Regions from separate parts of the Homo sapiens genome. Here region 2 is linked to region 1. The links come from fine-mapping of genetic effects on gene expression. Tissue or cell type: blood mononuclear cells. Region 1 holds a variant in brackets; the other region holds the start of a gene. All regions are shown on one strand. Distances are from middle to middle.

The links. PIP is the estimated chance that this variant, and not a neighbour inherited with it, causes the effect.
Region 2: GPR25 starts here. The variant in region 1 is the best candidate, but not a certain one, in a credible set for the expression of GPR25 in blood mononuclear cells (TOPMed, PIP 0.76).

What each region holds. Positions count from the first base shown.
Region 1 is chr1:200,979,674-200,984,673 of GRCh38, reverse strand. It overlaps KIF21B (kinesin family member 21B), which reads left to right. Exons shown (of 35, transcript NM_001252102.2): 28 at 1,580-1,618; 29 at 3,578-3,714; 30 at 4,959-5,000. Among named protein-coding and RNA genes, the nearest start is that of KIF21B, 42 kb to the left of the region's middle. RefSeq lists an enhancer at 4,837-4,986. The variant C/T (reference allele first, on the strand shown) is at 2,495.
Region 2 is chr1:200,870,154-200,875,663 of GRCh38, reverse strand. It overlaps GPR25 (G protein-coupled receptor 25), which reads right to left and starts at 2,683. Exons shown (of 1, transcript NM_005298.4): 1 at 1,486-2,683. The coding sequence starts at 2,626. The coding sequence ends at 1,541. RefSeq lists an enhancer at 1,989-2,631.

The sequences.
Region 1 (5,000 bases):
CCCTTCTCCTCCCCTGAGAATGCCAGGACCTCAGGAGAGGGCAAGAAGGAGGCCACAGGGATTGGGGCCGGGCAGTCAGGTGGGCTGGTCGCATGGGGCCGGTGCCTGAGGGCTCTCCAGAGCTGCCCTTTAATCCACCTCTGCTGCTGCTTTGAGTCTGCTCTGAAGCCCCTTCCTTCAGCTTCAACCACTCCACTCTCTGTGCATTCTCCCAGCAGAAAGAGACCAGACCCCCAAATTGCCTTCCTCAGGCAGGTTCAGGTCCACCTATATTCACAGCTCCTGATGCAAGACTCTACTGCCTAATGGTGTGGTTTATGTTAACAGCCTCCCCTGCATTCAGGCTTTCTCCCTGTGCTTTACAACCTGCTTTCATATATGTGATTTCATTAGGCTATGAAACAACCACGAGAATTGTCTTCCCTATTTCACATAAGAGGAAATGAGGCTCAAAGAGGGAGCCAGGGATGTTCACCTAGAAAGTGGCAGAATTGCACCCAGAGCCTGGGACTTCCAGCCCCTGCCTGCTGTGCCTCAGGAAAGGGGAGGACCCTATCCTCCATGTGCTGCTCTGGGCTCCCCAGCATTGCTGGGCCCACCCTGGTCCTGTTTTGCTCTCTGCAGCCCTCAAGAGGGCTCCTCTCTTAGCTCCCTGAAGGCTTCCCTGCCCCAGGGGTGACAGTGCTGTGGCCTTCAGGGGAGTCTCACACTAGAAAATACTTGTCCTTGTACCTAGTGCCTGATGTCCACCCTCCCCACCTCTCCACAGAAATGCCCCTTCCTGGGTCAAAATACTACTTGATGAATGCTGAGCCCAGGAGTCAGAGCCCTGCAGACCTGGCACCCCAGACACCTCCTTCCCCAAACCTATCTTGGCTCAGGCTGCTGTGGGGGGAGCCATGGATCACTCCTAGCCCATCTCCATGTTGTTACAATCAACAGGTCCCCTTTTTGGAAGGATTGGGGCAGGGCTGTGCCCATCCCAGCCTGATGGTCTTCTGGAGGCCTTGGTCTTGTCCAATGGTCCAGGTCTTGGAGCCTGTGCATGGTGCACAGCCAACTTCTAGGCACTGTCCCAGTGGGCCCCCTAGGGATAGTGGGCTTTGTAAATAAGTGAGCCCCTGAGGAATTGCTGGAAGAAGCCAGCTCCCAGGGAGGGGTAGGATCAGGCATGGCTTCCTTCAGCCTTGGGCAGGTATGAGCATTGCTGGGGTGGGGCAGGTGCCCCCAGCTTGTGCGATGGGGCAGCCAGAGAGCTTGGAACCAGCAAACAGCCCTGGAAACGTCTCCCCATGTGTGGGGCTGGTGCTCCCACATCTCCCCGTGGCCCCCTCCTCGCTCCTCCCTTGCCAGCCGAGAGACCCTGGCAGCCCACTCCTGGGGGAGAGTCCCAGCTCCCAGACCAGCCCACCCACCTCCTCCCCTGCTCTCCCGAGGCCCTCATTCCTCTGCCTGTCTCTGCTCCGCTGGAAGAGAATAACCTGCCCTCTGACCACCCCACACACTGCTGCCGCCTCTGCGTCCCTCTGTGTGTGTCTCCTCTCACCCCCTAATCCAGCTAATTTTCTGCCCTCCCCAGGTCTGATGACAGCGACTCCTCTTTGTCGGAGGTCCTGAGGTACACACAGAATGTCTCTCGTGTTTGGTTCCCCACTCTCACTCTCGGCACCCTCTCTTCTCTGTCTCTTGCTGCATCCCTCCCGCCTGACACCCGTGTCCTCAGCATGCGGCCCCTCCACTCCCCTTCCTGCTGCCCCCCTCTCCAGACCTGTTCCTGCCCCCATGGTTCCTCTCTCTCAGGGTGGCCACAAGGCCTTGGACTGCGCCAGCTAGAGCTGGGGGCTTGGGGAGGGTGCACAGTTGCTTGTCGCAGGCCCTGTTCTCTTCTCCCTCCTCACCTGGGCAGGGAGGGGCGCAGCATGGAGGCCTAGGGGATGCTGGGCTGGGGCTGAGTTCTCCACGACTGGAAGGCAGGGGAAATGCTGAAGGCTGCTCCTTTTGGGGGTGCCGGTGGTGTGCTCTGGGTCCTTTGATTCCCTCAGCTTGTGCTGGGGGTGAGCTTTTCAGACGTTGGCTCTGGGAGGGGCACCATGGGGGGAGGGGCACCATGGGGGCAGCGCCCCTTGCCCACACCTGTTAGCACACAGATGTGTGGGTACCTCCCCTTCCCGCAGCCTGTGGGATGGCTGGAGGCTGGTTCTCCCAGCCAGCCGAGCATGACACCGCACAACGAGGAGCAAGACTCAGGACCTGGGGTCCCGAGCCCCTGACAAGCCAAGGGCCCCTCGTGGGCTGAGAGCTTCCTCGGCTCTCCTGGTGGGCTGTCTCAGCTCCTCGAGCCTCCAGCCCTGAGTGTCGACAACTGGTTTACTGTGAATCATGAGGCTTTGCCACCACAAGATGTTAGCCAGCTGGCCAGGCTGTCATCGGGGGGAGCATGATCCCTTTGACATAGTTCTGTGGCCATGCAGTGAAGCCAAACCATTGTCAGAAG[C/T]AGGGTGCTGGAGCAGCTTGGGGAGCTATTTGTGCATGTGTGGCACCTGGCTGGCAGCTGGACGTATCCGACCACCATCCTCAAGGGTGGGCCTGGCAGAGTCTGGGGGGAGCTGTGCCAGAAGCGCCACAGGCAAAACCTTGATCATTTCAGTAGACCCTTGGCCAGAGTCACTGTCAGGAGCAGCTTTCTCTTGGGAAAAGAAACAAAGCTAGGATATATTTTCAGACATGACTCAGCCAGGGTCTCATCCCAAAAGACCCTCACTGAGAAAAAAATCATCTTCAGAACCTCAGGAAGCTGGATGTGGCAAAACCCTCACGCTCACTTGGGCCAGCCTCCTTCTCGCTCCCCTAGCATCATGGGAGCGAGGAGGTGTTGTTCCAGGTCCATACAGCCCCATTCCAGAGAGCCCCAAACCTCCTACCCAAAGCCAAGCCAGCCCCAAAGGGATTTAGCCCTTCGTAAATGCCAGTCACAAGTTTGACCCCGCTGGTCCAAAAGGAGTGTGTATGTGTACACATGGCTCTCTGCTTGGAAGATGCTAGCCTCAGAGGCAGTTACCAGCAGAAGGGTTTACTGGGATCAGGGTGCATGGGGGTGATGGCCTGAGCAACCCTCCCTCTCAGCACCCCTCCCTCACACTCGGTTAACTGAAGCAGCATGCAGCTTCTGGTGGAAGCTACAGGGCCCAGTTCCAGCCCCTGGGCCTCTGCCCTGCCCAGCTGGACCCGGGCGCATTCACATCTCAGGATCTGGGTCAGACATTGTCAGATAGGAACTCTCTGTGGACAGAGCCCACACCTCCTGCACCTTCTAGCTGTGCCTAACACCGGGTTTGCTTCCCCAGAAGTGCTCAGGATGGCAACTGATGATTGCTGATTAAGACAGGCTATCTCCACTCTGTGTAGCCCGTTCCCGGCTCTCAGACCTTGGTGGAATTTGGCTGGAGTCCTTAAAGTCTCTGTTATTTGGTCCTCATCCCCTCCCTGCCCTGTCCCCATCCCACACACGTGCCTTGATCAGCCTGGCCACAGTCTCCCTGGCTGACGAGCATGCCTTCTCTCCCTCTCTCCCGGGAAGGGGCATCATCTCCCCGGTTGGAGGAGCCAAGGGTGCACGGACGGCCCCACTGCAGTGTGTCTCCATGGCCGAAGGCCACACCAAGCCCATCCTCTGCCTGGATGCCACAGATGAGTTGCTATTCACAGGGTCCAAAGGTATGTGGAACGCCAACTAGCCAGGTAGGGTTGGGGTCTCCTACTCACCCCTGCTTCCTTTGTCAGAGTGGTCTGTGAAGGAGAAAAGAACATAGAGCCCCCAGGAGTTGAGGATATGGGGTCTATTTGCTTACTACCCTTGTTTCTTACCTTGGCTCAAGGCCCCCATCCCATGCATCCTTGGCCAAGCCTTCCCTCATACCTGACCTGGTGGCTCCATCCAGCACTTCCTTCCAGACCTTCCAGGGAAACTTCAGGAAGCTTCTTGGGTGCCCCACCTGTACTTGCACTGCCCAACATCACCCCAGCTCATACATCTAGGCACTCCCTATGATCTCAGCAGCAGCACTTTACAAAGTCACGCTCACCTGATTACAGCAACAAAGTCAAACATTTTACCAGCAGATAGGCTGGGCACAGTGGCTCATACCTGTAATTGCAGCACTTTGGAAGCATGAGGCAAGAGAATTGCTTAAGCCCAGGAGTTTGAGACTACCTGCGTGGGCAAATAGTGAGATCCTGTCTCTACAAAAAATAAAAAATTAGTCACAATGACATGTGCCTGTAGCCCCAGCTACTCAGGAGGCTGAGGTGGGAGGATCGTTTGAGTCCGGGAGGTCAAGGCTGCAGTGAGCTGTGTTTGTGCAATTACACTCCAGCCTGGGCAACAGAGCAAGACCCTATCTCAATAAGCAAATACAAAATTCTTTATTTACTCTTTCATTCATTCATTTTACCGACAGAAAGAACTAGTCTGTAATAGACACGCATACTATAACACAAGCATAAATATAGCTCTCCACGGCAGTAGGGGGATAGCTGTCAATCTAGGTGTGATTGATTGATTCCAAGTTTTCCCATAACATTTGCTTGCACTGGTTCATTTGCTTTGTCAGCAATTAGTGTTTGGAGGAACAGGCACCATAAAAGCTTAAGAATTTTATTTTAGCCCTGGACACCTTAGCAGTATGGCTCACAAAACTCTGGTGTTAGTGGAAAGTTTGCTTGAGGAACCCTGGTCTGAAGTTCTGAGGGAATTCTCTCTTCCCTGAGTTTTTTACTAGCACACACATGCCAGTGAGCACATGTGTATGTGTTTTTTTCCTCTTCAGACCTGGAGCTCCGTCCTCTGGAGCCCTGTGGATCCCTTTCCCCTATCCTGGGCAGCCCCTGCAGAGGTGGAGCTGCGCCCCCTAGTGGCTGACATCCCTCCCCTCCCTGTGGCTTCCTCCCATCTCTCACAGACCGAAGCTGCAAGATGTGGAACTTGGTTACGGGACAGGAGA
Region 2 (5,510 bases), 110 kb after region 1:
ACTCTCAAACACCGAAGTGCCTGAAATGTGTCCTGCTGGCAGAGGTGACCTCACAGGCTGCAAGGCTTGCCTCTCTTGGAGTATATGGTAGGAACATGCAGAGATGCACTTTTTGGCAGGCTGACCTAGGAGAGCCGATGTTCAATCCAAGCAGCTCCAAATGCTGAAGAGAATACAGGGGTATTTGATGGGGGGATGGGATGGATAGCCTGCGACAGAATGCCAGCCTTCAGACCCAACCTAGTGCTGAGGTGCTGATGTGCGTGCACACCCACCCGTTCCCCCAGAGCTTGCAACATCAAGACTGGCCTGTGGGGATCTGGCTAGGATGTGCACTGACTGAAATGTCTTTAGGCCAAATCCTCTTAAATCAAAAGTATAAACAGTGAATTTCCAAACCCTACAGAAACCTCAAATGAGAAATGACAGAGTCAGAAAATGGCTAATCCTCCAAGTTTGTACTGGAAGGTCTGAAAAAAGATAGAAAAAAAAAGGGGGGGCCTGGTATATATTTGAAAATCCAAAATGACACATCTTCTCTTGGAAGTGACACTTGGCTGGCAGATGCCCTTATATAAATATATTTTCTTTCGGTAATTTTCAAAATGTGAAATGTCCTTAAAAATAAGAATAAATGACTTGCTTCCTCCTGTGGGATTACTGCACCTGCAGAGTGCAGCCAGCTCTCATGCTCCCAGACACCACCCCAAATCCTCATCATCCTGAGATCAACCTCAACTACTGTGTTGAGTTTTGTCTCACCCAGTGTACGACCCGCCTCCTGATATGCATTTCACTCCCACTGCTCAAGCAAAGACGGTTGTCAAGACAGGGCTAGCAAGAGTGTTTATTGAGAAAGATGAATTCACAGAGATTTTGAGGTTCCTGGCTGAGTGATGGAGACCTCAAAAAACGCCTGGTGAGCGATTTCAGGACCTTCTGTCCAGAGGGAAAGACCAGAACAACTTCCAGGTGAGTCCTGCCGCTTCACAGGGGGAGAAGTGTCACCAGATTCAATGCAAGGGTTTTGTGAGTGAGAAGGGCAGGGGGTCTGACTTGGAGAAGGTATTTCTCTGAAAGCAACGGCTATTGTGGGAGACGGGAGAAAGCACAGCCAGAAATCAGAATGGCATTTGGGGGTCTGGGTTAGATATTCTGGTGGGTTCTCTTCCCGATGGGACAGAGAAGGAAACCCACTTCCCTTCTGTCTACTTGGTGAATCTGCGGGTCTCCGAGTTGCTGTCTGCTACATCTCATAGCACCTATCTTGGACTGGACAAAATTAGCTCAGGTACCCTGCAGGCTGAGAGGGAACAGCTAGTCACAGGAGCCTGGTTTAGGGGAGTTCAATTGTTCTGAGGTTCCGGGGAAACCGATGGAGGAGGCCTTGGGAGTCCAGGCAGCGCGCGAGGAAATGCGATGCCGGCCCGAGCAGCTTGCTGCCGCCAGAACAGGCGCGTCTGGGGAGCTCAGTCCCCTCCGGGACCTCTGGCCTCCTCTCGATGCTCCGCTGCCGCCCACCTCCAGCGGCCCGGGGCAGCTACCAGGAGGCCGAGGCAGTGTTCGCGGCCTGGGCCCGGCAACGGAACACGGAACTGTCGTCCCTGGAGAGCGAGGAGGCTGAGCTGATCCTTCGCGCCAGGCGGCCGGTGCGCCCGCAGGCCCCGTCCAGCGCCCGGGCTCGGAATGAGCGGTCCAGCAGGAGGTAGATGAGCGGGTTGGCGCAGCTGTTGACGAAGGCCAGGCAGGTGGCAATGGTGAGGCCCCAGCGCAGCGCCAGCAGCAGGGGGCACGGCAGCGGCAGCGCCCCCAGACGCGCCAGGTGGAAGACGGCCCGCAGGGCGCTGAAGGGCAGCCAGGAGCCCACAAACGTGCTCTCGATGGCGAAGATGATGCGCAGCGAGTTCCTCCGGGCCCGACCCACGTGCGGCGGCCGTCGCAGGCGGCGCGAGATGCGGCAGTAGCAGAAGAGGGTGACGACCAGGGGCAGCACGAAGGTCAGCAGCAGCAGCAGCAAGCTGAGGCCCTGGAAGGCGTGGGAGGGCTCCTCGCCGCACTGGCTGTCCTGGCCCCCAGGCAGGGGCTGCAACCCCCGGTAGACCAGGGAGGGCAGGCCGGCCAGCAGCGCCACGGCCCAGACGCCGCAGCACGAGGCCAGCGCGCAGCGCGGGGTGCGCAGTGGCCTCGCCTCGAGCAGCTTCACCACGGCCAGGTAGCGGTCCACGCTCATGCCCGCCAGCAGCAGCGCGCCCGCGCAGCGCGTGCCCGCCAGCGCGAAGCTGCTGAGCTTGCAGAGGCCATCGCCGAACGGCCAGCGGCCGCCTAGCGCCGCCGCCGCGGCCCACAGCGGCAGCGTGAGCACGAAGCCCAGGTCAGCTGCCGCCAGGTGCAGCACGAAGGTATCCACCAGCCGCCGCGGGCCCCGCCGCCCGGCCAGCAGCCACACCACAAAGGCGTTGCCCAGCAGGCCCACGGCGAAGGCCGCCAGGTAGAGCGCGGGGATGTAGACGTAGCCGTAGGGCAGGTCCCCGGCCGGACACAGCTCCAGCTCCTCCAGGCCGTCCAACCCCGAGTAGTCCCAGGGCGCTGACCCCGGGCTGGGGCTCCAGGGCTCTGTGGGGGCCATGGCCTGGCTATGAGGCCTGCGCGGAGTGCAGCCCTGGGCGCAGGCGGCAGCAGCTCTGAGCAGGAGGGGGTTTGCTCTTCACGCCCGGCCCTGCACCTCCCTTCCTGCCACCCAAGCCGGAGGCAAATGGGTGGGCAGGAAAGAGGGGAGGGAGGAGGGGATGGGGTGGGAGGGGCAGGCTTCTGTGAGAGAGATGGTGGCCTCCGATTTGGGGCTGACCCGAGGGGTAAGGGCAGGGACAGGCAAAAGGGGCTTCACATCTAAATCTTGGGAGGAAAAGTCTTCAGGGCTGGGAGACCTGCCCGGCCTCCCAGTAGGAGCGTGGCCCATTCCTCTATTAGTTGCTCAGTTTCTTTGTTCGTGAAATCGGGATACTTGCCCCACTGTCTCAGGGTCGCGTTGCAAGAGGTGGTGGGTGCCCGAGAGCCCTAACCTCTTCTCAGCCTCCACTTCACCCCTTCCCACCTGCACCCACCGGCTGCTGTCTTCTCTGTTTTAGAGGTGAGAAGACAGAGCCCCGGGATTTTATGAGTATGGGGCCTAAGGCACGCCCCACCCCAAATCCACCTGTTCCCTAGGAAAGACTCCACTGCCGGGACACAGCAGATCTGGGTGGGTGGGGGAGCCCGCCCTGGGCAGTCAAGCAGTTGTTAGCGTCCTGAGATGTGGGGCTCATGTCTTCACCCTATGAGTGGCTTCTCTGACCCAGTCAGGTCCTCATGAAGCCACGCGAAAGGGTTTTAAGGCAGCGAGGAAGGGGTGTAGTCAGATCATCCTGCTGGAAAGGGGTGAAACCTGGGATTCACATCTGCCTCTTCCCTGTCTTCTCCTATCCTAAAAAACCTGTCAAGCCAGACACAGATGTAAGCTCAGTTCAAAAGATGACACCTAATGAAACACCAGATTAGTTGTCCTAAATTATGAGTCAGGAGCTTGGAGGCAGCAAGATCCCTTCTGAACTGAGAAACTGAGAGTAAGGGGAGGATTCATAAAGACGAGGGGGAATGAAGTCTGACCCTGAGGAGGCAGTGGGACCTAAGGAGGAGAGGATGGGTGAGGGAAAGCTTGCTCTTTCTCCTGAAGGAGGCATGCAGCCACTTACATCTGAATTCTTCTTAGCAGATATCCCTTCCACAAGATATTGTGGTAGAACTGATGTCACAGTGCCCTCTGAGTCTGTCCCCAGTGTTCCCAGGTATGAGTGGCTGATGTGCCGGGCAACCCGGTGTGGAAAATTTGAGGTGGATTATCAATTTTGTTCGATTAAGACTTGTTAACAATGAACTCCTCCATGAAGCAGGCACTGTTTCAGGCACTGCAAGAGATGCCATTCTTGGCCTTCGCAGTTTGTTGCATAGGCAGGAGAGATGGTTACATAAGCAGAATCTTATGTAATCTTATGCAGGGGCCAAATTGTAGTAAATGTTAAAAACCAAGCCCTCTTAGGGTTTAGTGGAGGGGGAGTGATTATTTTTGACGGGAGGGCTGAATCAGAAAAGGCCTTCGAGGAGATGACACTTGAGATCAGTCCCAGGAAGGAGCTGAAAGTCAAATAAGAGCAGCAGAAAAGAGAAGAAAGGGTCAGACTCGGAGGAGGGAGTAAAGGGAACAAGTATACCAAAATGAGTAGGAATGTGGGCTTTTCAGGGGACAAGCAGTCTGCCAGAGCCCAGGGTAGGAAGGTGGGGGCAGGAGATGAAGCAGGAAAGGATCATGAGGGGATTTGGATTTCAATCTATAGGTCATGGGGAGCCAGGAGGCATCGATCTGTGTTTTGAAAAGATCGCTGGCAGAACTATGGAGAAGGGAGAGGCTCAAGCCAGGGAGACCCCATAGTAGGTTGTAATTATTTGTGTCTGAAATAGATCATGAGCAGTGGGGACAGAAATGGGAGGGTATATTCAAGAGATAATTGTAACATCATAGGTCTCACAAAGAGGAGTCAAAGATAAGCCTGGGGTTTCTCTGCTTAGGGACTATATGGACGCTGTCCCCTTAACTGCCAAGAACACAGAGAGGCACATGTGTGTATGTGTTCAGTTTGATGTTGAAGTGGGGTCATGAAATAATTTATCATCTAACCAGGATGTTTCTGAGAGTGAAAGGGGCACTATCAGAATTAACCTGGGCCGTAAACCAGGACTATTTTGGGCAAACTGGGACATAAGGTCACCCTCGCTCAGGGTCCCTCTGGCACACGGAGATCCCCAGGAAGGATTTGGAAAATGGTCTTAGAGGCCGGGCGCAGTGGCTCACATCTAATCCCAGCACTTTGGGAGGCCGAGGTGGGTAGATCACTTCAAGTCAGGAGCTCGAGACCAGCCTGGCCAACATGGTGAAACCCTGTCTCTACTAAAAATGCAAAAATTAGCCGGGCACGGTACGCGCAAGTCCCAGCTACTCAGGAGGCTGAGGTGGGAGAATCGCTTGAACCCAGGAGCAAAGGTTGCAGTGAGCTGAGATCAAGCCACTGCACTCCAGCCTGGGTGAAAGAGCGAGACTCCATCTCAAAAAGAAAATGGTCCTAGAGCTCACAGAGGGTTGGGTATGCAGTGTTTAGGCTGCTCCTGTCAAGAATTTCTCCCACACCAATTACAAGATGGGCAGGGAAGAGAAGAGCCTAGGGAATGAATGGTCTGGACCTTCCCTTCACTGGCTTTTCAGCCTCCGGGCTTGGTTTTCCCCTGAAGACCCACCCCAGAGCCGCTTTTCTAATGTCTGAGCATGTGGTTGCTGGTGAGCGGTGCCCACATCCGGGGTGGAGTAGGGGGCTGCAGCCTCCTCCCCTAGAAGGCTAGCAGGGGCAGTGCTTGCCTGCCAGAGCCCAGAGACCATCAGAGACAGACCCAGTGTTGCTGGACTTCACCCCTTCAGGCACACCTCA